Linked DNA regions of Homo sapiens: regions 1 and 2 are each linked to region 3. The links come from fine-mapping of genetic effects on gene expression. A gene starts in region 3. Each other region holds a variant in brackets. All regions are shown on one strand. Distances are from middle to middle. Region 1 overlaps LDLRAD2 (low density lipoprotein receptor class A domain containing 2). Region 2 overlaps CELA3A (chymotrypsin like elastase 3A). Region 3 holds the start of HSPG2 (heparan sulfate proteoglycan 2).

What was found. PIP is the estimated chance that this variant, and not a neighbour inherited with it, causes the effect.
Region 1: its variant is the best candidate, but not a certain one, in a credible set for the expression of HSPG2 in whole blood (INTERVAL, PIP 0.63).
Region 2: its variant is the best candidate, but not a certain one, in a credible set for the expression of HSPG2 in whole blood (INTERVAL, PIP 0.51).

The regions. Positions count from the first base shown.
Region 1 is chr1:21,824,551-21,832,670 of GRCh38, forward strand. It overlaps LDLRAD2 (low density lipoprotein receptor class A domain containing 2), which reads left to right. Exons shown (of 5, transcript NM_001013693.3): 5 at 1-675. It overlaps HSPG2 (heparan sulfate proteoglycan 2), which reads right to left. Exons shown (of 97, transcript NM_005529.7): 81 at 7,945-8,056; 82 at 7,102-7,246; 83 at 6,913-7,012; 84 at 6,665-6,774; 85 at 6,432-6,540; 86 at 5,443-5,541; 87 at 4,833-5,054; 88 at 4,285-4,529; 89 at 3,705-3,876; 90 at 3,480-3,602; 91 at 3,313-3,369; 92 at 154-229; 93 at 1-65. Among named protein-coding and RNA genes, the nearest start is that of LDLRAD2, 16 kb to the left of the region's middle. The variant G/A (reference allele first, on the strand shown) is at 3,944.
Region 2 is chr1:22,011,257-22,021,854 of GRCh38, forward strand. It overlaps CELA3A (chymotrypsin like elastase 3A), which reads left to right. Exons shown (of 8, transcript NM_005747.5): 8 at 1,194-1,286. The coding sequence ends at 1,211. Among named protein-coding and RNA genes, the nearest start is that of LINC00339, 8.6 kb to the right of the region's middle. RefSeq lists an enhancer at 7,700-7,789 and a silencer at 7,990-8,049. The variant C/T (reference allele first, on the strand shown) is at 3,229.
Region 3 is chr1:21,933,064-21,942,218 of GRCh38, forward strand. It overlaps HSPG2 (heparan sulfate proteoglycan 2), which reads right to left and starts at 4,247. Exons shown (of 97, transcript NM_005529.7): 1 at 4,092-4,247. The coding sequence starts at 4,154. RefSeq lists an enhancer at 2,697-3,538 and a silencer at 4,286-4,635.

The DNA.
Region 1 (8,120 bases), 110 kb before region 3:
GCAGGAGGCCACTGGCTGTGCTGGTCCGAACCTCCAGCTCGATGGTCTCGGGCACCTCGGGCAGGCTGCGGAGGAAGAGCGGGTGAGGGGACAGAAGTCCCAGATTCCCATCCTCCCCATTAGGCCCATGGGCCCTTCCAATGCCAGTCTCACCTCCTGGAGAAGACATGGCCAGGGAAGGCGAGGAAGCCATCATCGTGGAAATAGGCTCCGTACTGCCCAGGGGCATCTGTGGGAGAGAGGAGGGTGGTGCCATACCTGCTGCATCAGGCATCAAAATCCCCCGTCAGTTCCCCTGACCCCCACCTCCACGCCAACATGCAGGACTAGGGGGCTCCGAGCCTGCAGTCCCTGGGGACCCACGGGGGCTGCCAACAGAATTCAGGGAGCCTATGACCTTGGATGGGAAAGCATTACACCTCAATTTCACTCACTTCTCACTGAAATTGAGCAGTTCTTTCAATGAGATGTAGGCAAGAAACCAAAGTAGCAGTGGTAGGACCTGCAACTTTGTTACTAGTATTTGCTTATCACATGACAGTAGCTGCAAATATTTCAAAATATCATTTACACATATTGCTGCTTTGAAATTGTGGTAGCTACTGAGATCACCAGATCTTGTTATTTGATGTGTTAATAAAGAAGCACATATATAGCAAGTCAGGAAACTTAAAACATGTTTTGATTACTTTACTTCAGCATAATTGCTTTCCTTAAATCAATGTATTTTATTTTATTTTATTTTGTGTAGTCAACAGGATCCGTGTCGGGTGACCCGCCATTCTACTTGCCAAATTCTGTCTGGCTTTAGCCCTGAAAGTCCCACATCCCAAGAAACCCCTCAGTCCGGAGCTACTGGGACCGTTGGTCACCTTGGACTGTGGCAATAAATGGTTCAGAGCCTTGGTGTTCTCTCCATCTTACAGAAGAGCAGGCAGGCTTGGGCGAGTGACTGGCCCAGGATGTCCATACTGTGTGTGGCTCCACACCCCCCCAGCCCTATCTGCTCATGACCCATCCCACAGGCCGGCACTGGCCACAGTAGCTCTGGCAGGGGACAAGAGTAGGGGACCCTCTGCTACCCTCCACCAAATGATGAGGAGAACGGCTGACATTTACCTAACACCTATGATGTGGCTGTGCGGGGAGCGTCCCATCCAGCTACAGACACCACTGCATTTAACTCAATCCTTACAACAACCCTATGAATGAATATTATATATAGATAATTTTTATTTTATTTATTTATTTTTGAGATGGAGTCTCGCTCCGTGGCCCAGGCTGGAGTGCAGTGGCACAATCTTGGTTCACTACAACCCCCACCTCCCAGGTTCAAGCAATTCTCCTGCCTTGGCCTCCCGAGTAGCTGGGACTACAGGTGTGCACCACCACACCTGGCTAATTTTTGTATTTTTAGTAGAGATGGGGTTTCGCCATGTTGGCCAGGCTGGTCTCGAACTGATCTCAGGTGATCCACCCACCTTGTCCTCCCAAAGTGCTGGGATGACAGGTGTGAGCCACCGCACCCAGCCTTATTTTTTATTTTTTTGAGACAGGGTCTCAGTCTGTTGCCCAGGCTAGAGTGCAGTGACACAATTGTAGCTCACTACAGCCTCGACCTCCTGGGCTCAAGTGATCCTTCTGCCTCAGCTGGGACCATAGCCATGTGCCACCACACCCAGCTAATTCTTAAATTTCTTGTAGAGATGAGGTCTCCCTGTGTTGCCCAGGTTGATCTTGAACTCCTGGGCTCAAGCAATCCTCCTGCCTGTCTCCTGAGTAGCTGGGACCATAGATGAGCACCACCATGCCCAGCTACTTTTTGTATTTTTTTGTAGAGACAGGATTTCGCCTTGTTGCCCAGGCTGGTCTGGAACTCCTGGGCTCAAGCAATCTGCCCGCCACAGCCTCCCAAAGTGCTGGGATTATAGGCGTGAGTCACCATACCCAGCTGAATATAGTATTTTTTTTTGAGAGGGAGTTTCGCTCTTGTTGCCCAGGCTGGAGTGCAATGGTGCATGCAATCTTGGCTCATGGCAACCTCCACCTCCCAGGTTCAAGCGATTCTCCTGCCTCAGCCTCCGGAGTAGCTGGGATTATAGGCATGTGCCACCACGCCCAGCTAATTTTGTATTTTTAGTAGAGATGGGGTTTCTCCATGTTGGTCAGGCTGGTCTCAAATTCCCAACCTCAGGTGATCTGCCCGCTTCAGCTTCCTAAAGTGCTGGGATTACAGGCGTGAGCCAGTGTGCCCGGCCAGCTGAACATAATATTAACAACAGCTAACATTCTGTACTGACTCTGTACCACACATTGTTCTAGGCATTTAAAATGCACTAAGTGGCCGGGCGCGGTGGCTTATGCCTGTAATCCAGCACTTTAGGACGGTGGCTTACGCCTGTAATCCAGCACTTTAGGAAGCCAAGGGGGGCGGATCACCTGAGGTCAGGAGTTAGAGACAGGCCTGGCCAACATGGTGAAACCCCATCCCTACAAAAAATACAAAAATTAGCGGGGTGTGGTGGCAGGCACCTGTAATCCCAGCTACTCAGGAAGCTGAGGCAGCAGAATCGCTTGAGTCTGGGAGGCGGGGGTTGCAGTGAGCCGAGATTGTGCCACTGCACTCCAGCCTGGGTGAAAGAGCAAGACTCCACCTTAAAAAAAAATGCACTAAGTAATTTTACTCTCACATAAAATTTTATCCAAATCTTTAGGGAAAGATGTTACTCATCTCCATTTTATATGAGGCACAGAGAGGTTAAGCGACTCACCCAAAGTTCCACAGCTAGTAAGTGGGAGAGCTAGGATTTGAACCCAAGCAGGCTGGCTCCAAGTCTATACTCTTACCCACTATACCACTGCCTCGCCTATTATATTAGTGATACATAAGAAGAGATGTGTCTGTAAAGGGGTTAGCACAGTGTCCGTAAACATTCAATCAGCATTCACTCTTCACTGTTTCCTTAGCTTTTCAGTAGACGGTGGAATTCTTGGGAATGAGGGTCTTGCTTTATGCATCTTATATTTACTGCTCTCAGGGCAAGGATGGGCAACAATAGTTTGTTGACTGAATACATGAATACAGAGGAGGAAACTGAGGTCAGAGTGGTTTCAAAGGCCTGCCCAAGGTCACCCAGCCAGTAAGTGTGGGGCAGGCCCTAGCTCCACATGGCTGTGGTCTTCATTCTGTCTCTCTGCCCAGCAAGCTCCTCATATAAAGCTGTTTTGCTTGCAGGCCAGAATTGAGGGTGTGGGGTAACTGGAAGAGTGAGCTGAGCTGAAGCTGGGGAGGAGGCCATGGCAAGTACTCACCATTGCCCCCGCTGCCTTCAAGATGCCAGTCGGACTCTGCTATGCCATGTCCAGAGCCTATGGAGAAGGGCAGGGTCCAGTTGGTGGGCATAGACACCCGTGGGTACTATGTCGAGCTCCGGGGCCCCAAGACAGAGATGAAGTGGAGAGAAGCCAGGCCTGGGTACCTTGTTGGCAGCGTGGGCCAGAGAAGCCAGGGAGGCAGAGGCAGCGGGTGCCCTGGCAGGTGCCCCCATGCAGACAGGGTTCACGGAGCTGGCAGGGGTTCTCCTCGTGCTCACACAGGTCTCCTGTGGGCCAGGGCAGAGGCGAGTGGGTGGGTGGGCATGGGCTGGAGGTGTCGCTGACCACCTGTGCCCCTCCCCTCCGGTGCCCTGGGCAGGCTTTCCCACCTTTGAATCCATCTCGACACAGGCACTGGAACTCATACTCGCCAGCGGGCATGCACGTGGCACCATGTTGGCAAGGCTGGCGCTCACATGGGGAGCTATCATAGCATTGCCCGATGCCCTGGCTGCCTAGGAAACTGTAGGTGAGGTCCAGCCGTTTGCCATTCACTGACACCTGTGGGGACAGGGACACCGAGGGACTAAAGGGGCCTGGGAGGCAGAGACCCAGGTGTACCAGCAGG[G/A]AGAAGAATGCAGCAGAGGGGAGCTGGGAGCCCACATTGGGCCCTGAGTGGTAGCATGGATTCTCGGTGTGGGGAGGGAGGCGCAGGAGTTGAGTGCCTACTGTGTGCTAGAAACATTCATCCGTCAGTGCAGACAATCCTCTGCCCAACCTTTCAAAGTAGGTGTGATCATGCCCATTTTACAGAGGAGGAAACTGAGGCTCAGAGGTACAGTGTCCTGGCCCAGGGCCCGTGGGTGGCTGCAGGTGGAGGGGCCCAATGCCAAGGTGCTTGGAGAGCCGAGGGGGACACAAGGCTTGGCACCCCTCCCCTCCCGCTTGTCCCGAGGAGGCTGCTCTTACCTCGCCCACACAGCCGCGGAAGTGAGCGCTCATGTTGGTGGCCGGGGACAGTGGCACGGAAGGCTCCACACCCCCCAGGTAGAGCAGGGTGTGCAGGTTGAGGCCCTGGCTCTTGCCGGGCGAGGAGCGCAGCACAGGGCGTCCACCATTCACCCGCAGGCTGCCGTCCTTGTTGAGACGCTCTGCAGACACACGGTGCCAGCGGCCCAGGGCCAGCGGCTCGGCGCTCCGCAGAACGGCCAGCCCTGGGGAGGATGCCAGGCAGGGTTGGGCACATGGGGGCACACGGGGCTCCCTGCCCTCTCCACCACAAACAGGGCCCTGAGCAGATGGGGAATGCCCTACAGCCTTCTGTATTCCAGATGAGGAGCCCATGGCTCAGAGAGGGCTAGGGATTGGCCTCAAGTGACACAGAGACGAAATGCACAGGAAGAGGGGACTTGCCCTGATCCCTGCATTTATCCTCCCATGCCTCCCTGGGGCTTGAAGAGCCGAGGGGGGCACAAGGCTTGGTGTGCAGAGCCCCGCATTTGGTGCTGGGTGCTTACCTGACCCCAACTCATAGCGGAACTCCAGGTGGCCGCCCACCATCGCCAGGGACACGAAGTCCTCCACAGGCCCGCTCTTCCCCCCGCTGAACAGCAGGACCCCGTCAGGGGCGAGTGGCTTGAACTCCACGTCCAGGCGTAGCTCGTGGTGTGTGTTGGTGAGGGCGGGCAGTGCCAGGTAGGAGCCAGCACCCGACAGCGAGGGGGTGGTCACTGTCACACCTGCAGCAGCCACAGCTCAGCTGAGGCAGTGGGGATCCTGGACCCTCGGGTGGGGTCCAGCTACTCTGCCTTCCTCTGGGACCCTTGCCTGCCTCACTCTCCAGGCCCAGAGGCTCAGGACCAGTTGGCACCAGCTGCAGTGGCACAGGAGCCCCCCTGCCCTTGCACACGGGGCTGGGAGGAGCTCCAATATGACAGGGGTCCTCTTTGGGGGCCCTCACTCAATAAGGGGCTCAGGCTGGGCAGACATGTGGCCAGGTGACTTCGAGATCCTCTGGCTTGGGAATCGTTTTATCATCCGTAGGGCCCATCATGGCCTCAGAGTGCCCCACCCAGCCTCCCCAGCTGACACTAGGACCCTGGGGGTCTCAGGCCTGGCTCCCCTCACCTTCCTCACACCGCAACCCCGAGCGGCCCAGGTGGCAGCGGCAGGTGTAGCCTCGACCGTCAGGCCGGTTCACACAGGTGGCGTCGGGCCCACAGGCCTCTGGGGGGCACATAGGCCAGTGAAAAGACACGGAGGTGACTCTGGAGGGAGGGGGGTCCTGATGCCAGAGGTCTGCCCATCACACCCCGGGGGGCTGGGCTAGTGAGGGCCAGGCCAGCCTCCTGGGAGGCCTTGGAGGAGGGAACTGAGCAGAGCAAGGCGGGAGCCAGAAGAGGCCACAGGGAGGACTGCAGGGGAAGCAGTCGAGGGACTCTGTGTGTCTGCAGGTTCTTCAGAGACTGGACAGTGTTGGAGGGGGAGCACCTGGTGGCGGGTAATGGGGTGGGCACCTGGGTAATAAGATGGGACTGGGGGCCGGGCGTGGGGGCTCATGCCTGTAATCCCAGCACTTTGGGAGGCCGAGGTGGGTGGATCACCTGAGGTCAGGAGTTCAAGACCAGCCATGGCCAACGTAGTGAAACCCCGCCTCTACTAAAAATGCAAAAAATTTAGCCAGGGGTGGTGGCAGACACTTGTATTCCCAGCTACTCAGGAGGCTGAGGCAGGAGAATCGCTTGAACCCGGGAGGTGGAAGTTGCAGTGAGCTGAGATCGTGCCACTGCACTCCAGCCTGGGCAACAAGAGCGAAACTTCGTCTCAAAAAAAAAAAAAAAAAAAAAAGATGGGCTGGGGGTGGGGGAGTGCCTGGGTGGCGGGGTAGTGGTAAGAATTTGGTCAGCAGGGCTGGAGGAGGGGAAGCAGCAGTGATGGGGTGAGGGCCTTCGGGTAGCAGAGATGGGGGATGGGTACATGGGAGGAGTGGAGAGTGCTCAGGTGAGAGTGGGGGGTGTGGAAGTGCCCCAGTGGTTGAGATGGTGGTGGATATGGGGAGGCAGCAAAGGGAAGAGGCAGGCCCTGGGGCGACAGCGACTGGCGGTCGGGGTGCGTACCTGGATGGCAGTGCAGGGCCTGCGAGTGCTCACAGCGGCTCCCGGTGAAGCCAGCTGGGCAGACGCACACGTAGCTGCTGCTCTCAGAGTCATGGCACTGACCGCCATTCTGCAAAGCAGCCCCCAGAAGTAAGGCCGAGAACATTCAGTACCCCCCATAATCCCCACAGGGGCCAGCCATGGCTAGGGGTGGAGGCCACGGCAGCCAGGTGGTGTGTGGGGTGTGGGGTCACCTGGCAGGGCCGGTCCCGACAGGTGGGGCAGTGGGAGATGCCGTGCGCCGTGAGGTTGAGGTCATGGAAGACGATCTCCTCGCCCTGGATGCGCAGCTCCCGGACACAGCCTGGGAGGTGAGTGGGCAGGATGAGCACAGGGCAGGGTGTCCCAGCCCATACCCTGAGGTGCCCTCCCAGGCTCTCCAGGGCTCTTCCAGCCAGCCAGGTAAGGCCCAGCCTCAGCTGGAGGTGGGGAGGGGGCTCACCTATGAAGCCGCTGCTCAGCCCCGCCTTGGGGATGGCACCATAGTCAGGATAGCCACCCAGGTAGAGTTCCTCGTTCAGATCCAGGCCCTGGAACTTGCCCTGGGGAGGTGGGGAAGTCAGGAATGGCAACAGAGGCTGGGCAAGGGCGGGATGAGGGCTGGAAGTAGCAGTATGGGGTTGGGTCTCACCTGGGAGGTCCCATTGACCGGGGCCAGGTCACCCACAATCAGGGAGCCCTGGGTGAGGCTGCGCAGCAGGGTCACGGTGTGGAAATGGCCCAGGGCCAGTGGTGTGGGATGGCGGATGGTGGCCATGCCTGAGCCTGCATCGAACCTGCTCCGTGGGGCAGGCCGGGGCAGGAGAGAGTGGATAGGGGGTTTGTAAGAAGGGCTAGGGGCCCAGTTGGGTAGAGGGGTCCCAGAGGAGGGATGTCACCACTTCCTGCAGTCCCAGCCCTGGGGCTGTTCCCGTTCCTGTCCCTGTCTTGTCGTCCCTCCCCGTGACCCATCCCCTGGATCTTCTCTCCCCACATCCTTTTGCTGGGAGCTTTCCCAGAGCAGCCCACAGGGACCCCAGGCTCAGCGCCCTGCAGCCTAGCACCTGGCCTCCTTGTTCCTCTGAGGACTCCTCTCTCCCTGTGATCACCTTGTTTCTCTGTTTATGGCTTGTTTATTCTTCCCCAGTGAGAATACACCTCTTCCCACAAGAGCCAGAATTTGGTCTGTTTTGTTTTACCTGTATCAGTGCCTGGCACACATGGGGTGGTCAGCAAATAACTGATGCATGCATGCATGAATGAATGAATGAATGAATGAATCCTGGCCTGCAGCAGTCCCAAGTCTGAGGTTGCACCCTCCTCCACCTGACTGGCATACTATTCCTACTCTAGCAGATTGGGTGGTCACCAAGGGTAACGGCCACATTTTCTCCTTCCTCCAGATCTCCTTTGTATAATGGAGCCCAGGGTAGCACTTGCCAGACCAAAGCCCTGTGTCCAGTCCCCCTGTAGGTGGGGAGGCTGGGGGTCTCACCGGAACTCGGGCCTTCCCCCCACGAGGCCGAAGGAGATGAAGTCGGGCTGCCGGTTGGCCAGGTTGGTGGGGCTCCCTGGGACTCGCTTCTGCCCATTGTACAGCAGCATCCCTGGGTGGGCACCACTGTGTAAGGGGCCCCCTTCCAGCCACAGGCTCCCTGTCCTCCCCCACCC
Region 2 (10,598 bases), 79 kb after region 3:
TGTGGTCCCAGCTACTCAGGAGGCTGAGGCAGGAGAACTGCTTGAATCTGGGAGGCGGAGGTTGCAGTGAGCCGAGATTACGCCACTGCACTCCAGCCTGGGTGACAGAGCAAGACTCCATCTCAAAAACAAAAACAAACAAACAAACAAAAAAACAGTGATGATTTATAGACCATTTAATCCCTTGGTTCCCTGACCCATGTTAAAAAAATATATATATAAGGCCAGGCACGGTGGCTCATGCCTGTAATCCAAGCACTTTGGTAGGCCAAGGCAGGTGGATCACAAGGTCAGGAGTTCGAGACCAGCCTGGCCAATATGGTGAAACCCTGTCTCTACAAAAATATAAAAAAATTGGCCAGGCGTGGTAGTGCGTCGCTGTAATCTCAGCTACTTGGGAGGTTGAGGCAGAAGAATTGCTCGAACTCAGGAGGCAGAGGTTGCAGTAAGCTGAGATTGTGCCACTGCCCTCCAGCCTCGGTGACAGAGCAAGACTCTGTCTTAAAAAAAAAAAAAGGCCGGGCGTGGTGGCTCACACCCGTAATCCCACCACTTTGGGAGGCCGAGGTGGGCAGATCACGAGGTCAGGAGATTGAGACCATCCTGGCTAACACGGTGAAATCCCATCTGTACTAAAAATACAAAAATTAGCCAGGCATGGTGGCGTACGCCTGTAGTCCCAGCTACTTGGGAGGCTGAGGAAGGAGAATGGCATGAACCCAAGAAGTGGAGGTTGCAGTGAGTTGAGATCGTGCACTCCAGCCTGGGCAACAGAGTGAGACTCTGTCTCAAAAAAAACCAAAAAAACAAAAAAAATATAGATTTTGTTTATATATATACACATACATACGTATATATATATACACAAACACATACGTATATATACACACAAATACGTATATATATACACACACACATATACACACACATGCATATACATATATATATACATACACATCCCATCTAAATTTGTGCTGGGCATTGTAAAGAGAACCTTAGTTAACAATTTAATCAAGAACCCCCCCATGAGGTAAGTTCTATCCCTACTACATAGAGGAGGAAACTGAGGCTCAGAGAGGTCAATCCCTCTCCCAGGGTCACACAGCAGGGCTGGAAGTTGAACCCAGTTTCATCTGACTCCAGAACCTGTGCTCCTAAATTGACTATTCTGTCTGCCCCCCCAACTTTTCCAGACCATAGCAAGCCACTAGAACCAAGGCCCAGCTGGCAGTGCTGATCGATCCCACATCCTGAATAAAGAATAAAGATCTCTCAGAAAATTCCAAGTTGAATCTTTCTTTCTTTGTTGACTCACCTCTTCCCCTCTGGCCTGTTCCTAAAATCTTAGATCTCATATGCAGAGACAGGACCAGGTCCAACCCTTTCATACGAAGATGAGGGAAAAATGATGCTGGGAGAGAAGGGAGTTGCTGTGCGGTGACCTGACCATCCTGGTTTGCCTGGAACTTCAGGAGTGAAGACACTGGACATTTAATGCTAAAACTGGGAAGGTACCAGGAAAAATGGGACAAGTTGGTCGCCTTAGTATATAGTCGCACATAAGTCAGTAGCTTTTCAATGCAGGCATATAAACATGGTAAAACTCTGCAGATAAACAGACCCTGCCAGCCCTTGAGGAGGCTCATGGTAGAGTGGGAAGGACAATGTGTGTTCTGCTTCCACTGATGGGCTGGGGGCTTTGGTATTCGTCCATTCAACAAACACTTATTCCTTGTTTTAGAGGAGGGCTCAGAGGGGTAAGGAGACATGGTTCCTGCCCTGAAGTGGCTCATTATTTAAAGATAGCTCTCTTAGTCTGTGTTCATACTGCTATAAAGAACTGCCCGAGACTGGGTAGTTTATAAAGGAAAGAAGTGTAATTGACTCACAGTTCAGCATGGCTGGGGAGGCCTCAGGAAACTTAAAATCATGGTGGAAGATGAAGGGGAAGCAAGGGACCTTCTTTACAAGGTGGAAGGAAGGAAAATTGCCTAGCAAAGGGGGAAGAGCCCCTTATAAAACCATCAGATCTGGCGAGAACTCACTCACTATCATGAGAACAGCATGGGGGAACCGCCCTATGATTCAATTACCTTCTCCCTTGACACATGGCGATTATGGGGATTACAATTCAAGGTGAGATTTGGGTGGGGACACAAAGCCTAACCATGTCATGAGCATATCACGGTCATTCATTAAACATGTATTAGGTACCTGCCTTGTGGCAAGTTCAGGGCTGGAAAAACAGAGACAAGTCAGGCAACCCTAGGAAGAGCCCTTACTGAAGGGGGGAGAAGACACACACACAGGTACACAGGTATACACACACAGGTACACACAATGCTGCGCACGAGCCCAGAGCCAGCAAACAGTTGAGTTTTGAAAGGAAGAACGCTGGCCAGGTGCAGTAGCTCATGCTTGTAATCCTAGCACTTTGGGAGGCTGAGGCAGGTAGATCAACTGAGGTCACGAGTTCGAAACTCCTTCTTAAAAAAAAAAAAGAATGCTGTTACACAGACAAAAGCAACATAAAACAAGGGAGTCTGGCTGGGCCTGGTGGTTCATACTTGTAATCCCAGCACTTTGGGAGGCCAGGGTGGGTGGATCACTTGAGCCCACGAGTTTGAGACCAGCCTGGGAAACATGGTAAAACCCCATCTCTACAAAAAACATAAAAATTAGCCAGGTGTGGTGGTGGGTACTTGTAGTCCCAGCTACTCGGAAGACTGAGGTGGAAGAATCACTTGAGTCCAGGAGGCAGAAGCTGCAGTGAGCTGAGACTGTGACACTGTACTCCAGCCTGGGCACAGAGCAAGACTCTGTCTGAAAAAAAAAAAAAAAAAAAATTCAACGGAATCTCTTTCCTCATATTTCTCTTTGAACACCATGAAAGGGAAGATTGTCCCAGCAAGGACACACACAAATGACTTTGATATTAATGGCCCATTTGTAGCCTCCCTTTATACTTTCAGCTACAACTGAAAAAGATGCAACATAGAGAATAATATAGCAGAGACTCAGATAGGTATCCTCCCTTCAGAATTAACAAATTTCACATTTTGCTTCATATTCTAAAAAATATTAATTACAATCATTCACTAAAAAAAATCAAGAGATCTATAATTTTTTAGATCCAGCCTGTCACCCAGGCTGGAGGGCAGTGGCACAATCCTGGCTCGCTGCAACCTCCGCCTCCCAGGTTCAAGCGATTCTCCTGCCTCAGCCTTC[C/T]GAGTAGCTGGGACTACAGTCACCCACCACCATGCCTGGCTTATTTTTTTTGTTTTTGAGTTGGAGTCTCGCTCTGTCGCCCAGGCTGGAGTATAATGGTGTAATCTCAGCTCACTGCAACCTCTGCCTCCCGGGTTCAAGCGATTCTCCTGCCTCAGCCTCCCAAGCAGCTGGGACTACAGGCGCACGCCACCACGCTCAGCTAATTTTTGTATTTTTAGTAGAGATGAGGTTTCTCCATGTTGCCCACGCTGGTCTCGAACTCCTGGCCTCAAGTGATCACCCGCCTTGGTCTCCCAAAGTGCTGGGATTACAGGCGTGAGCCATTGTACCTGGCCAGGGTCTATAAATTTGGAAAGGGGATTTTATATCTTATAAAGGGTTACAGCCTGCATGGTGGCCATGCTGACAGGCTGGGAAGTGTAGCCTCCTGCAAAGAGGAGAAACAGGCACTCCAAAGGAGGAGGGATTGGAGTGGAAGCTTGAAGCTGAAAGAGTTGGCTAAACATACATATTCAACAGGTTATAGAAGGAGCTGTGGGCTGGGCGCAGTGGCTCATGCCTGTCATCCCAGCACTTTGGGAGGCTGAGGTGGGTGGATCACTTGAGGTCAGGAGATCGTGACCAGCCTGGCCAACATAGTGAAACCCTGTCTCTACTAAAAAATACAAAAATTAGGCAGATGTGGTGGCGGGTGCCTGTAATCCCAGCTACTCGGGAGGCTGAGGCAGGAGAATTGCTTGAACCTGGGAGGTAGATGTTGCAATGAGCTGAGATCGTGCCATTGCACTCCAGCCTGGGTGACAAGAGCAAAACTCCGTTTCAAAAAAAAAAGGAGCTGTAAATATTAACAAAGGGGGTCCTGACACATGTGTACTGAACAAACGTATGTTACATGTGTCCCATGTTCACTGTGGGGTGGAGACTTGACATTTAAATGCATTACTGCTGGGCATGGTGGCATGTGCCTATAGTCCCCGCTACTCAGGAGGTGGAGACAGGAGGGTAGCTTGAAGCTAGGAGTTCAAGGCTGCAGTGCACTATGATCGCACCTGTGAATAGCCACTGCACTACAGCCTGGACAACATAGTGAGACCCCACCTCTTTAAGCATGAAAACAAGACCCTGTGCATCAAAAGGTGAAGCAGGAACATGAAGGTACTCAAGTGCAGCTTCTGTAAACCAGACAGAACCAGTCCATGCTCTGTGGTCTTCTTATCAGGAGAAAGTTACTGAAATCTGTGTCCTTACCAATCAAAGCTGGAGTTATGGCTTTGGAGCAGGAGCAGGGGGTCTGTTAGGGTCTGGTGGTGGATGAGCTGCAGTTGTTTTAATATTATTGATCTCAAGGCCAGTGCTTGTTGAGCTGCTAGAGAAAAGGAAAAATCTCAGGCAGCTGGGAACGGTGGCTCATGACTATAATCCCAGCACTTTGGGAGGCTAGGGTAGGAGGACTGGAGGACTGCTTGAACCCAGGGGTTTGAGACCAGCCTGGGCAACATGGCAAAACCCCATCTTAGCTGGGTGGGGTGGCACATGCCTGTAGTCCCAGCTACTTGGGAGGCAGAGGTGGGAAGATCACTTGAGCCCGAGAGGTTGAGGCTGCAGTGAGCTGTGATTGCACCACTGTACCACTCCAGCCTGGGTGACAGATTGAGACCTTGTCTCCAAAAAAAGAAACAAAGAAAGAAAAATCTTGTGGCAGTTAGAACATAGCTTATTTTTTTAAGTGTAGGGGTCTTAACCCTTATCTGGCATGACCTTAGCTCTTGTTATAATTTGGTATCTTACTGCCACTGAGAATCTGTTCTGTCAGTTGTAAGATCTCTATTTTAACATTAATTTTTTTTTGCGGGGGTTGGGGACGGAGTCTCACTCTGTCACCCAGGCTGGAGTGCAATGCCGCGATCTCGGCTCACTGCAACCTCTGCCTCCTGGGTTCAAGTGATTCCCCTGCCTCAGCTTCCTGTGTAGCTGGGATTACAGGCATGGGCCACCATGCCCGGCTAATTTTTTGTATTTTTAGCAGAGATTGGGTTTTGCCATGTTGTCCAGGTTGGTCTCAAACTGCTGACCTCAGGTGATCCGCCCACCTTGGCCTCCCAAAGTGCTGGAATTACAGGCATAAGCCACAGCGCCCGGCCTAATTTTTAACATTAATGCTGGTCAGTTGTGTCTACACCACCAAAAGGAAGTCTAATGAGGTGTGCCTGACTCCCATCCTGTCATGGCTGGGAACTCAAATTTTAAGATTTCTCTGGGGTCCTCTTGGCCAAGAGGAGGCCCATTCAGTGGTTGAGAGGGCTTAGGATTTTATTTCCAGTTTTCACAGTTAAGGTGGAAGCACCTTTGTATTCTTCCCAAAAGTCATCACCATGATGGACAGAGGGTTTTTATCCATCAATTACTGCTTTTGCTTTTGGGCACATAATAGGATACCTCTTTCTTGCCCCCTTAAAGTTAGGTTTGGGCCAGGCACAGTGGCTCACACCTATAATCCCAGCACTTTGGGAGGCCGAGGTGGGAGGATCACTTAAGCCTGGGCGTTCAAGACCAGCCTGGGAGTTCAAGGCCAGCCTGGGCAACATAGAGAGATGCCGTCTCTACAAAAAGTAAAAAATTTGCCAGGCATGGTGGCACATGCCTGTAGTCCCAGCTACTTGTGAGGCTGAGGGTAGGAGGATCGCTTGAGCCAAGGACATTGAGGATTGAGTGAGCCGTGATAATGCCACTGCACTCCAGCCTGAGTGACAGAGGGAGACTCTGTCTTAAAGAAAATAATAATAATAATACATCTATCACCTTGGCTGGATGGGATGGCTCATGCCTGTAATGCCAACACTTTGGAGGCCAACGCAGGAGGATTGCTTGAGCCCAGGAGTTTGATACCAGCTTGGACAACATAATGAGACTTCGTCTCCACTAAAAATAAAATAAAATAATTAGCTAGGCATGGTGGCATCTGACTGTAGTCCCAGCTACTCGGGAGGCTATAGTGGGAGAATTGTTTCAGCCTGGGAGGTTGAGGCTTCAGTGAGTGGTGCTCACATACTGTACTCCAACCTGGGTGACCGTGAGACCCTGTCTATCTGGGGAAAAAAAAAAAAAAGTTGGGTCTGGCCATTAGGCTTGCCAAGGTGAAATATTGAGAGACAAAGCAATTTGTCAGGCTCTCGTTCTCTCTGCTGTGACATCTGGTTGTTGCTGGTCAGCCTGGTCCCAGAGTGAGATGTGAACTGGAGGCTCTGCTAACCCCTGATGGACATGTAGCCCAACCATGAAATAAACTCTGTTATAAGCCACTAAGACTGGGTGTTATTTATCACAGAGGCATGGACCTAACCTATCCTAACTGATAATATGAGTTTGGTGTTTGTCCTTCTATTCTGTGCTGTTATGTTTTTATCATATATATAAATATCCAAAACCAATATATTGCATTGTTTTGGTTTTTAAAAATACATGCACAGCTTCATGCTGTATGGACTGTCCTGCAAATTGCTTCTTTCACTCAATGTTGTGGGTTTTTTTTTTTTTTTTTTTTTTTTTTTTTTTGAGATGGAGTCTCATTCTGTCACCCAGGCCAGAATGCAGTGGTGCCACCTCGGCTCACTGCAACTTCCATCTCCCGGGTTCCAGTGATTCTCCTGGCTCAGCCTCCTGAGTAGCTGGTACTACAGGTGCCCACCACCATGCCCGGCTAATATATATATATATATATATATATATATATATATATATATATATGCACACACACATATATATATATATATATTTAGTAGAGATGGGGTTTCACCATGTTGGCCAGGGTGGTCTCGAATGCCTGACCTCAAGTGATCTGCCTGCTTCAGCCTCCAAAAGTGCTGGGATTATAGGCATGAGCCACCCCGCCTGGCCTTAATGTTGTGTTTTTGAGGTCTATCTCTAGTTCGTTGCTGCTGTTTGTAGCATATCCCATTGCCTAAATTTTTATTATTCTTTATTCCTTCCTCATGGATATTTAAAGCAGAGCTAATTTTTTGTGATTGTGAACAGTGCTTCAGTGGATGTCCTTGGACATGTCTCCTGGTGCACATGTAGGAGAGTTTCTCTAGGGTATATTCCAAGAAATGGACATGCTGACTGGGAGGACATGCTCATTTTCAACTTTACCAATTGCCAAATTGCTCTCCAAAGTGATTGTATCAACAATACTCCTTCAAATTCTCTTTTTTTTTTCTTTTCCCATCCACTGCCCCTACACGTTACAAACTGGCCCCATTTTTCTCCTAAACCACTTCTGGCATCTCAGCCGTCCCCTACAACTCTCTTCCCATCCTTACTCTCACTCCAGCTCTTTTTTTTTTGAGACGGAGTCTCACTCTGTCTCCTAGGCTGGAGTGCAGTGGCGCAATCACGGCTCACTGCAACCTCCACCTCCTGGGTTCAAGTGATTCTCCTGCCTCAGCCTCCCAACTAGCTGAGATTACAAGCACACGCCACTATGCCTGGCTAATTTTTTTGTATTTTTAGTAGAGACGGGATTTCACCATGTTCTCCAGGCTAGTCTTGAACTCCTGACCTCAGGTGATCTGCCTGCAAGCTCCAGGTCTTGCAAAGCCTGAGAACTGGTATGGCAAGGGCAGAGTGAGAGCAGGGAAGAAATGGAGTCAAGCTGAACAGAGACTTCCGCATCATGAGGGTGGTGGGAGGTGGGGAGGAAGTTCTGAAACCACACACATTTATCATTGTTATTGAGTCAGACAGACAGTGCCTGCTGACATGTAACTGTCAGGCGTTGCCAAGGCACAGTAGGGTTGCAAAGGCTGAGTGTCCACTTCCTCCCAATGAGTCAGGAAGAACCCTTGGATAATTCTCCAAAATAGTTTCAGAGTAAAGGGCAGTGGGATATATGTAATTTCATAATGTGGCTGGCCAGCGGGCCCCCAAGGGACCTCTACCCATCCTCAGAGGGAGGCTGGGAGCTGTGATGACCCAGTTCTCTCCACACATGGGCAGCAGAGAGTCAGGGAATCTTGCCTAAAACTGCCAGCATTCAATTTTCCTTTGTTCAAATCTCCAAGTCTTATCAATTCAAGTCTTTTAAAACCCATATAGTCAATAACTTAATTCTTTGAATAATGATTAGAATGTCAAGGCCAATAATTTTTTGCTTTTGATTTCTAAATCATGAAAAGCCAGCAATGCATTTTTCAAGAAGGCACAATGTCAATACTTCAATTCCTTTTTTTTTTGAGACGGAGTCTCACTCTGTCACCCAGGCTGGAGTGCAGTGGTGCAATCTTGGCTCACTGCAACCTCCACCTCCCAGGTTCAAGCGATTCTCCTGCCTCAGCTTCCTGAGTAGCTGGGATTACAGGCCCACCACCACGCCTGGCTAATTTTTGTATTTTTAGTAGAGACGGGGTTTCACCATGTTGGCCAGGCTGGTCTTGAATACCTGACCTTGTGATCTGCCCTCCTCAGCCTCCCAAAGTGCTGGGATTACAGGCATGAGCCACCCCGCCTGGCTGGTTTGTAGAATTCTTTATATATTCTGGACATAGGTCAGATGATTGAGATCAAATGTGAATCTGGGCTGGGCGCAATGGCTTGCATCTGTAATCCTAGCACTTTGGGAGGCCGAGGCAAGTGGATCACTTGAGGTCAGGAGTTCAAGACCAGCCTGGCCAACAGGGTGAAACCCTGTCTCTACTAAAAATTTAAAAATTAGCTGGGTGTAGTGGCACTTACCTGTAGTCTCAGTTACTCAGGAGGTTGAGGCAGGAGAATTGCTTGAACCTGAGAGGTGGAGGTTGCAGTGAGCCAAGATCATGCCACTGCACTCCAGCCTGGGACACAGAGCAAGACTCTCTGTCAAAAAAAAAAAAAAAAAAAAAGGTGAGGCCGGGCGCAGTGGCTCATGCCTGTAATCCCAGCACTTTGGGAGGCCGAGGTGGGCAGGTCACCTGAGGTCGGGAGTTTGAGACCAGCCTGACCAACATAGAGAAACCCCATCTCTACTAAAAATACAAAATTAGCTGGGCGTGGTGGCAAATGCCTGTAATCCCAGCTACTAGGGAGGCTGACGCAGGAGAATCACTTGAACCTGGGAGGTGGAGGTTGCAGTGAGCCGAGATCACACCATTGCACTCCAGCCTGGGCAACAAGAGCAAAACTCCGTCTCAAAAAAAAAAAAAAAAAAAAAAAAGGTGAATCTGTCAAACTTTCTTTTGTCAATTAACATCAAAGACGTAGTGCTATCCCAGCACTTTGGGAGGCTGAATTAGCTGGGCGTGGTGGTGGATGCCTGTAATCCCTGCTACTCTGGAGGCTGAGGCAGGAGAATTGCTTGAACTAGGAAGGTAGAGGTTGCAGTGAGTCAAAATCACGCCACTGCACTCCAGCCTGGGCCAAAGAGCGAGACTGTCTCAAAGAAAAAAAAAAAAAAAGACAGTGCTGAGAAATCTTGTTCTCTGCCTGGCCAACATGGTGAAACCTCATCTCTACTAAAATACAAAAATTTGCTGGGTGTGGTGGCGGGCACCTGTAATCCCAGCTACTCAGGAGGCTGAGGCAGGATAATTGCTTGAACCCAGAAGACGGAGGTTGCAGTAAGCCGAGATCGCACCATTGCACTCCAGCCTGGGCGACAAGAGTGAAACTCCACCTAAAAAAAAAAAAAAAAAAAAAAAAAAAAGGAATCTCATTCTCTAAAATCAGAGACTGTCAGAAACTTTGCTGTTTGAAATCACATCAGTGAGAGCAGAACATCCCACGCTTCTCTAGTGGGTCAGAAGAGCCAGGTTTGATACAGAGACATAGCCTGTATCTACCCAGATGCAGAGCTTCAGATAAAGGGTTTTTGGACACAATAGTCTATATTTGTCTTACCTTTGTGGTGTCCAAGGAAACAAGACTCTGAGTCTGATTCTCAGCCCACGCCAGATGTTAACCCCTTTACACATTGCCAGCTTTGCTTTGCACCTATCAACACGGCTTCATTTCAATTTCACCTAAACTCCAACCTCCTCCAAATCCTATGATAATCCCATTTCTTCTTTTGTTTGGTGAGACCCTCCACAGTTTCTCTGGTGTGTTGTCTCTCTTGCTACATCAAGTTAATAAGCCTAATTTTGTTAAACTACAGCTACATCCCTAGTGGTCTTTTTCAGATTGGATTTGTCATAAAATTCAGGCTTTCTCTTTTCTTTTTTTGCTTTTGAGATGGAGTCTCACTCTGTTGCCCAGGCTGGAGTGCAGTGGTACAATCTTGGCTCACTGCAATCTCTGCCTCCCCGGTTCAAGCAATTCTTCTGCTTCAGCCTCCCAAGTGGCTGGGGTCACAGGCATGCACCACCACACCCAGCTAATTTTCTATTCTTAGTAGA
Region 3 (9,155 bases):
ACAAAAATTAGCCAGGTGTAGAGGAGGGTGTCTGTAGTCCCAGCTACTCAGGGGGCTGAGGTGGGAGGATCACCTGAGCGTGGGAGGTTGAGGCAGCGGTGAGCTGTGATTGTGCCACTGCACTCCAGCCTGGGTGACAGTGTGAGACCCTGTCTCAAAAAAAAAAAAAAGAAAAGAAAAAGAAACAAAGACTGGTATAGCTGGAGGAGTTTGAGAGGAGCAGGTGGCAGGAGGCCGGGTGTTGCAGGGCCTCGTAGGCTATATTAAGTCAGGGGCTGGGACCTAATTCTGAGCACCGCAGGGAGGTGGTGAGCAGGAAACACAGGTGAATGGGAGGATTCACTGAGAAACTCAGAGCAGACAGTGGGTACTGGGTAAGTCTGAAGTACCCGTATTACTGTGTCATCATCCAGCCTGGCACCCCAAGAGCTCCTTCCCCTCCACTTTGCTCACCCGTCTTCCGGGCCCTGAACCCAGTCACCTCCTGCCACCTTCTTTCCACCGTCTCCCGGGCAGGGCTTCAGACCCACAGATCCTAACTTGTCTGCGCTCAGCCTGAGAGCAGGCCCGGGCCAAGCCAGGCAGGGGCCACAACTCCCCAGACAGGGGGAAATGGGCCTAAGGGATGGGGGGGTGGTCCATCTCTGCCCCTTCCAGCTTCTACCCTGCAGACAGACCTGCAGCCTGCCCTCCTTCCCTCCGGGAATGTCCAGGGCACACTCAAAACCCCATCCTGTGCCGGCTGCAGGTACGGAACAAGTAGGCTAGTGTCAGGTGACAGAGCAGCTGGCTGCGTGGAGGAGGGCTGAGGGACCGCCAGGAAGGGGAGGCTCCTGCAGTTCAGCTGGCAGCCTCCCCAGTGAGGAAATCCAGCTGAGGCAGGAAACAGGTATCTCAGCGACTTCCCTCCTAGGCCCTGGAAAACACCTTAATCACCACCGAGGCTCCCTCAAGACGCCTGTCCCCTGCAGGGCCGCCCTAAAGGGGTCAGCAGGCCAAGGCCTGCCGAGTCACCCAGGCCCAGCCCCCTCCTCCAGCAAGCCTCCTCACCTCCCAACAGCTGAAATTACACCCACACTTAATCACAGATCAGCTTCCTGTGGTCCTGTCCCCCGTCCCGGGGAAGCCTGGAGCTCCCTAAGGCCCATCTCACCCTGCTGCTGTGCCCAACCCTTCCCCATAAGCCACTGGCTCCGGACCAAACTGAAGGGCAGATGAGAGCAAGGGTAGCAGGCAAAGAGGGTCCAAGGTGTGCTGGGAGCCTGGGCTAGGAATTGATCTCATTTTTGACTTGCAACAAACTCCTCAACCCCATTGTACAGATTTGGAAACTAAGGCTCAGAGAGAGGAACTCGCCCCAGATCACACAGCCAGAAACCGCAGCCCAGAGACTCATACTTGGGTCTGTAAGACTTCAGAGACAGGCCAGGCATGATGGCTTATGCCTGTCATCCCAACACTTTAGGAGACCGAGGCGAGAGGATCGCTTGAGGCCAGGAGTTTGAGACCAGCCTGGGCAACAAAGTGTGATGCCCTCTTTTTTTTTTTTTGAGACAGAGTCTTGCTCTGTCGCCCAGGCTGGAGTGCAGTGGCGCGATCTCGGCTCACTGCAAGCTCCGCCTCCCGGGTTAACGCCATTCTCCTGCCTCAGCCTCCGGAGTAGCTGGGACTACAGGTACGTGCCACCATGCCTGGCTAACTTTTTGCATTTTTAGTAGAGACAGGGTTTCACTATGCTGGCCAGGCTGATCTTGAACTCCTGACCTCATGATCCGCTCGCCTCGGCCTCCCAAAGTCCTGGGATTACTGGCGTGTGCCACCGCGCCTGGCCCCGAAAAACTTTTTATTGTTTGTTTGTTTTGAGGCGGAGTCTCACTCTGTCACCCAGGCTGGAGTGCAATGGTGTGGTCTCAGCTCACTGCAACCTCCGCCTCCTGGGTTCAAGCGATTCTCCTGCCTCAGCCTCCCGAGTAGTTGGGATTACAAGCATGCGCCACCACACCCGTCTAATTTTTGTATTTTCAGTACAGATGGGGTTTCACTATGTTGGCCAGGCTGGTCTCAAACTCCTGACCTCGTGATCCGCCCACCGTGGCCTCCCAAAGTGCTGGGATTACAGGCATGAGCCACCGCGCCTGGCCTGAAAAACTTTTTAAAAAGAATTTTATAAAGAGACTTCAGGGGCCAAGCTCTTTCCAGCCCACCACCAGCAGCCTGGGGTGGGACAGCGACCCTCCATGTGTTGCTGAGAAGGCTCTCTAATCCCACAGGATTGGAGCTGCCTGTTTATTTGTCTAAATTACCGCCCACCAGCCTGTGAGTGCTGGGAAGGCACAGACAGGGCCTGTCCTTGCTGGTCCAACCCACCCCAGCCCCTAGCACCACACGAGGTTCACTGGTTCACTGGCACACAGTAGGTGCATGGCAAATATCTGCCCAAAGAATGAACCTCTGTACTCCCAGTGACTGCCATGGAATGTCGCTCAGTGATGATCTGTTGAATGAACAAGTGAATGAGATGATCTGCCACGGTCCAGGAATGTCTGTGGAAATTCCTCATGCACACAGCAAACAACTCCACCCACCGCCATCCTACCGCACCCGGGCATGGAGGAGCCCCTCATCGGGGGCAGAGCTGGGGGAAGGTCAGGAAAGACTGTTGGGCCTCGGAAAACATCCCACGTGCTAGGTTGGTGCGTTGGGAAAAGTAAAAGTCAGTGCCAGGAGTGCAAGTTCAGGTCAAGACTAGGGAGCTACTGGATGGCCCTGCTGAATATTTTGGGGTGAGAGGCTGAAACAGGAGGACGACAGAGGAGGCTGCCCAGAGTGGGGATGGGGGAGGAGAAGTGCTGGGTGGGTGGGGCAAGAGCAGTGAGGAGCCAGGTCTGGGTGGGGGCTTGACGAGTGACTCAGGAGGGTAGAGGTGCGATGAAGCCAGGAAGGTGAGGCCAGGCAGGCAGTTCCTGGGTAAACACCAGCCTGGTTAGAAAAGTCCCTCTCTTGGCTCAGAGAACAGGGAGGCAGGTATGGGGACTGCCTAGGAGCACCTCGGAGAGAGTGGGGGTGGCTCTGTGGCTCCCCACGGTAGGCTCGGCTCCCCAGATGTGCCCCCACCCACATCTGCCACTAGCTCCCTGCCCACCGACCCCACCCAGTCCTCCTCAAGTTCACTCAGGTCCTCAGGGCCTCTGCTGGCCAAGTGCCTTCTAAGCCTCGGGATTCCTGACCGTAGAATTCCCTTTTCCTCCACCTAAGCTCAGAGTAGGGGACTAGACTGCAAGGGCAGGCCTCTCCCTGCCTCTTGGAGACCTGGGAAGAGGAAAGCTGGGGAACTCGGGTCCCCCAAGGGTGCACTGCATCCCCGCACCACGCACTTTGCAGCTCATTCCACGCAGTCCAGCAACGCCCTGCAGCTATGCATTTTGAGGCCGTGCATTTTGAGTTCCCTTGACCCACGTGGGGCTGGCCTCAGAGAGGTTAACTAGCGTGCCCCAGGTCACACAGTTACTCAGTGAAAGGCAGGGATTGATTCAACTCTTCGGCTGTATGACTCCAAGGCCCGTGGGTGTTCCACACAAGCTTCAGTTCTGTCCCAAAAGTTTTGCTTGTGCCTACCTGGGTCCAAGCTCCCCAAGGTGATAGACGGTGTGGTAAAGTTTCAGCGAGACTCATAGGGTCCCCATCACCACTGAGTGGCCGTTCTGCCAAGCTGGCGCAGAAGGGTTCCCTCGTCCTGCCAAGTTCCCACCCTGCTCAAAGTTTCCCCTCCTGGTCCCCAGGAATGGTAGGCCGGACCATGCCCAGCGAGACTCCAGCACTCGGCAACGTGGCCGAGAGACCCACGGGCTCCCACACGGGCCAGCCCCGCCCCCAGCCCCACGAAGGGTCCTGACTGGTGGCCCCCCTGGATTAGCCCCATGCCGCAGGGTGGCGCCGGCCCGGGGTCCCCGGCGGGCGCCGCCGTCCCGGGCCAGAGTCCCCGCCGCGCAGCCTTGGGCGCCCCAGCCAAGTTGGCGGGAGGCGGCGAGCGGGACCGGGGCGCCCCTAGCCCCTCCGCCCCCGCCCCCCGCCCCTCTGCCCCGCACACTCACCGCCAGCAGCCGCCCGTGCAGCAGCAGCGCCAGCAGCAGCGCGCCCGCCGCCCGCCACCCCATGGCCCGGCCCGCGCCGCTCTCTCGCTCGCTCGCTCCGCGCCGCCCGCTCCGCGCCGCCCGCAGCCGCCCGCTCGCCGGCCAGCTCGGGACAGCGCGGCCCTCTCCCCACCGCCCCCTTTCCTCCCCGCCCGCCCCGCCCCCGCAGCGCCGGCCCCGCCCCCGAACCGCCCCTCCCCGGAGCGCCAGGCCCCGCCCACGGACCGCCCCCGGGCCGCGGGCTCTGCTCGCCCCAGCCGGCCGCGCAGCCTACTAGGCCTTTGTCTGGGCCCCCAGCCCCCTCCGCGCGGGCCGCGGCCCGGCCCGGCTCCCCGCCAAACCCGGCCTGGAGTATGGGATGGGACGGGGCGGGGGACCGGGGGCCCGGGCCCGGGCATGGGATGGGGCCGCCGGGCCAGGCGCTCTCGCCTCCCCGATCCCCGGCTCCCCCGCTTCCCCGCGCGCGCCGCCGACTTCCACGCCCCTGCACGCCCCGCACGGCCGACTCCACTCGCGCAGCTTTTGAAGATCCCGGGATCTCCTTCCCACGCTCACACGCACGCAGCTGCCGCTCCGCGCCACACGTGCACGCCAACTTCCACACCCAAGAACACCTTCACACCATAACTTTACTGCACGAACACACTTGTGCGCTACCCGGGAACACTTTCACACTCTGGACCCAACTCTGAAGTACCAACAATCCTCACCGGCTCACATGCACACTTAACTCGCTTCCAAACTCTCACCTCCACCAGGGACACAGGAGACAGCCCTCACACCACACTCAGCCCCTCACTCACGCATACATCCCAACAAGTCACGGAGCGGGAGGACGCCTTTTCACATAGATTCCTCGCAGGCACGCACATTTCACACACAGGCCCACATCATTGCCTACATGCTTACCAGCTTGTTTTTTTTTTTTTTTTTTTTTTTGAGAAGGAGTCTCGCTCTGTCCCCAGGCTGGAGTGCGGTGGTGGGATCTTGGCTCACTGCAACCTCCGCCTCCGGGTTCAAGCAATTCTCCGGCCTCAGCCTCCTGAATAGCTGGGATTACAGGCGTGCCACCACGCCTGGCTAATTTTTGTATTTTTAATAGAGATGGGGTTTTTACCATGTTGGCCAGGCTGGTCTCGAACTCCTGACCTTGTGATCTGCCCGCCTTGCCCTCCCAAAGTGATGGGATTACAGGCATTGAGCCACCGCACCCAGCCTCAGCCTGTATCTTTTACCTGTTCTCACCCACTAATCACAGTGCCTCATAGTGGGCACTGGGTACTGAACTGAGCTGCCCACCCCACCTGCACCATTTTCCATGTAAATCACTCACACACCAACTTTGAGTCACATAAATCACAGCCCCAGAGCCAGAACCACACCAACTCACACACTCAGGCCCAGACAGACAGACCCTGCCAAAGCCCCATCACAGATGCTCGGGTGGGTGGTAAAATCACAGCCCCATGATCTGTCTCTGACCCAACCGCAGGCAGCAAACAGCACCAAGCCCCCAGACCTATTCACTGCCTACTCTTCAGCTCCCCTCTTCTGCCTGAAATTTCCAGGGCAGCCCGAGGCTGATGGGTGGAGAGGAAAACTATGTGTGTGTAGCTTTGAGGAAAACCTTTTGAGTAATGATAGAGGAGGAGAATAAAACTGAAGTTTCCATTGTTTCCTGTGAGAGTTGCTAGGTTCCAGAAACTCATGGCTGGGTTTGCAGCCAGGAGTGAGGTGAGCTGTGGACAGAAGGAAATGCCCAGCTCACTGGGCGGCACCAGGCCTGGCTCCGGAAGCTATGTTCCCTGTGATAGGGGTCCGCAGGCTCCCAAGCACATTGGGGCCTCTCATCCAGGCATCTGGGGGATTGAAAAAACACTGGCATCCTGACCCCCATCCCAGATAGATCCCCTATCTCCAAAAGATATCTCCAAAATATGCCCTGTGGGGCATATTTCTGTGGGACCAGCTCAGAGTTGTAAAGAACAGAAATTGCATCCACGGTAGTCAGGCCAACTGCCTGGCCCCAACCCAGGCTCCAGGCACAGCACTGAATAAGGTCTATCTCTGATCCGCACAGGGAGATAGGGGTGGACAGAGGAGGGACGCCCAATCTTGGCCCTCAGTAAACTCTTAATCTGATAGAGGTGTGGGGAAGAATAGTCCCTGTCCGGGTATTGTTCTCAGTCTGATAGAGAATCCTGCCTCCACCACCTAGCCGTGCAATCTTGAGCACATGATTCAACTTCCATGTCTCAGTCTCTGCATGTAGAAAATGAGAATAACGTTAAGACGTCTCTCTTAGTGTTGTTATGAGAATTAAGATAAATTAATATATTTCTTTTAAAAAACACAGCCATTTCAGACACTTGGTAAGCATGAAATAAGTGGTAGCCATTTCTCTTATTACTATTTCTGGTGTGCTCCCAATCTAAAGAGAGAGACATGACTTGGCCCTTGGGGAGCTGAGGTCTGATAGAGGAGCAGCCTCCACAGCCACCCCAGGGACCTCCCATTTGAGGGGAGAGTACACCAGGTTTGCACTTGGAAACTCCCTGTCCGATGAGAAAGGCTTCAAAACTCCACTGACTTCAGAGCTGGCAGGTGGCCAGCCCTAGTGGCAGGATTTTTCCAAGGCCTTGCCTGTCCATGGATTTGTCAGCATCCGTGACAAATCGCATTTCATGAGCTGCCTCAGTGTCTGTTCCCTACCTCGGGCCCTTTAAGTACCAGAGCTTTGGCTTCTTGGATGATTTGCTCATGAGCAAAGGGGGAAAAAAAGGGAAACAAGCAACCCTTTGTAGATGTTTGGTCAAGACTAACCCAGAGCTATAAGTCTTCCTTCCTCAAAGGGGTTGAGGAAAGAGATGGTAAGGCCGACTAGGGACTGGAAGGAGCTGGGCTGACACGCAGAAAGCAGGAATATATGGCATGTTGAGAAAGTCTTCCAGGGCGGCTCCAGCAGCGGAGGATTGGTCATCCACCTATTTATTCTGTGTCCTCTCCTTCCCACTAAGGGATTTGCCTGGGTCTGTTTTAGTTTGCAGTCCTTGATATCTTTAGCAAATGCTCTCAAGTTGCTTTGTCTAGAGCCTGGCTATCTCCTCATATGGCTAAGAAGAGGAGCAGGCACAAGGCCTTCTGGGCTTGGCAAAACCTTGGAGGCGCCCATAATCTCACTGTATGTACACAGAGTTCAGGGTGCTGGTCACACTCGAGGAGAGAAACAACTCAAGTCTCATACAAGGTTCCCTGGGCACGGAGAGACTACAACAGCTTGGATAGGCAGAAATAGTCAAACAGCTTGACTTCTGAGAATAGGTGTTGGGGGTTCTGGAACCAGCAGCTGGAGTTTGTGGCTTACCTGTCCACTCCTCCAAATTCAGTAGGACTCATCTTCTGGCTTCCACTCCCATTCCAAATCTTTTCTCTGCCTGAGAGCTTATCATTCATCTTAATCACATTCCTTTGTCCATTCATTCATTCATTCAGGGCTGCAGTGGACAGTTGCGCAGGTTGTTCACTGAACAAAGGTGTGCAGCCAAGTGGGTAAATAGGAACTGTAATGGGCCCTGTTGTGGGGCTACATCTGCCCAGAATGGGTACTTTTTTTTTTCTTTTTGAGACAGAATCTTGCTCTGTTGCCCAGGTTGGAGTGCAGTGGCACGATCTCAACTCACTGCAACCTCTGCCTCCTGGGTTCAAGCGATTCTCCTGCCTCAGCCTCCCAAGTAGCTGGGATTACAGGCACATGCCACCACACCTGGCTAATTTTTTGTATTTTTAGTAGAGACAGGGTTTCATCATGTTGGCCAGGCTGGTCTCGAACTCCTGACCTCAAGTGATCCACCCGTCTCGGCCTCCCAAAGTGCTGGGATTACAGGCGTGAGCCACTGCACCCGGCCCAGAATGGGTACTTTTTGCTGATATGAGTGAAGGCACTGTAAGGCTAGCTGTGGCCCTATATTCATTCAATAGTGAAACTAAACACTGCCCACGAGAGTTTCTATGTCCATGTGGGAAAACAAATGCTAATAGAGTAACAATATGTCCTTGGGTGAAAATGAAGAGTCAGAAATTGGTGTGAAAGAGAATTGAGATGGAGGAGAAAAAACAAGAAGATAGTACTGAAGAAGAGGAGGAAGAGGAGGCAGGAGGTGGGTCTAAGCAGGCAGCAAAAGTTCCCATGGAGAGGGCGGGGACCCCACAAGGCCTGGCATGATCTAGTCCTGCCCATCAATCCAGCCACAGCCCTTCCCCACCATAGTCTTTGCAGATGCTGTTCCCTCTCCTAAGTGCTTTTCCCAGTTAACACCCATCCCCCTTCACTCTACTCTCCCTTAAGATTGAGTCCAAACATCACATGACCACAGAAATCTTCTCTGACCTCCCAAGCGAGGTCGTGTTCCCCACCACACTTTCCCACAGCGCCCCCCCCGCCATGCTTTTCTTGTAGCATTTTTGACCATTGTAATTATTTGGAAGATCATTTAATATTATGAGGCATAATGAAGGCAGAGGGCATGAAGGTCTTGTTTCTGTCTTGGTCCCAATTATATCCCCTGTGAAGAGCACAGTGTGTGGCACAGAGTTGGCATTTGGATAATTGTTACTTAAATGAAAGAACAAGACATTAGTTCAAACGTGGCACACAGTGTAAATGTCCCTGTTCTGGTTTGTGCTTGGAACAAAGATAAACCCTGGGGAGCAGGCAAGGCAGTACATTTTATTATTCCCCTCCCTTTCCAGCTGGGAAAACTGAGGCCCAGGGGATGAAGTGGCTTGCCCAGGTCATGCAGTCAGTAAGAGGTAGAACCAGGATTCATGTCCATGTCGGTCTGATTCTACAAACTCCCATTCTCAACCACACCCATTCTGCCTCCCTGTGGGCTGTTCTCAACTCTGGCCAGGCACAAGTGCGCTTCTCCCAGCTCAGGCAGAAGCGTGAATCTTCTGAAAGCTCTTGTATTTGACCCCCTGCCCCAACTTGATGTTTCCCCACTACCCTTCATCATTATCAATTGC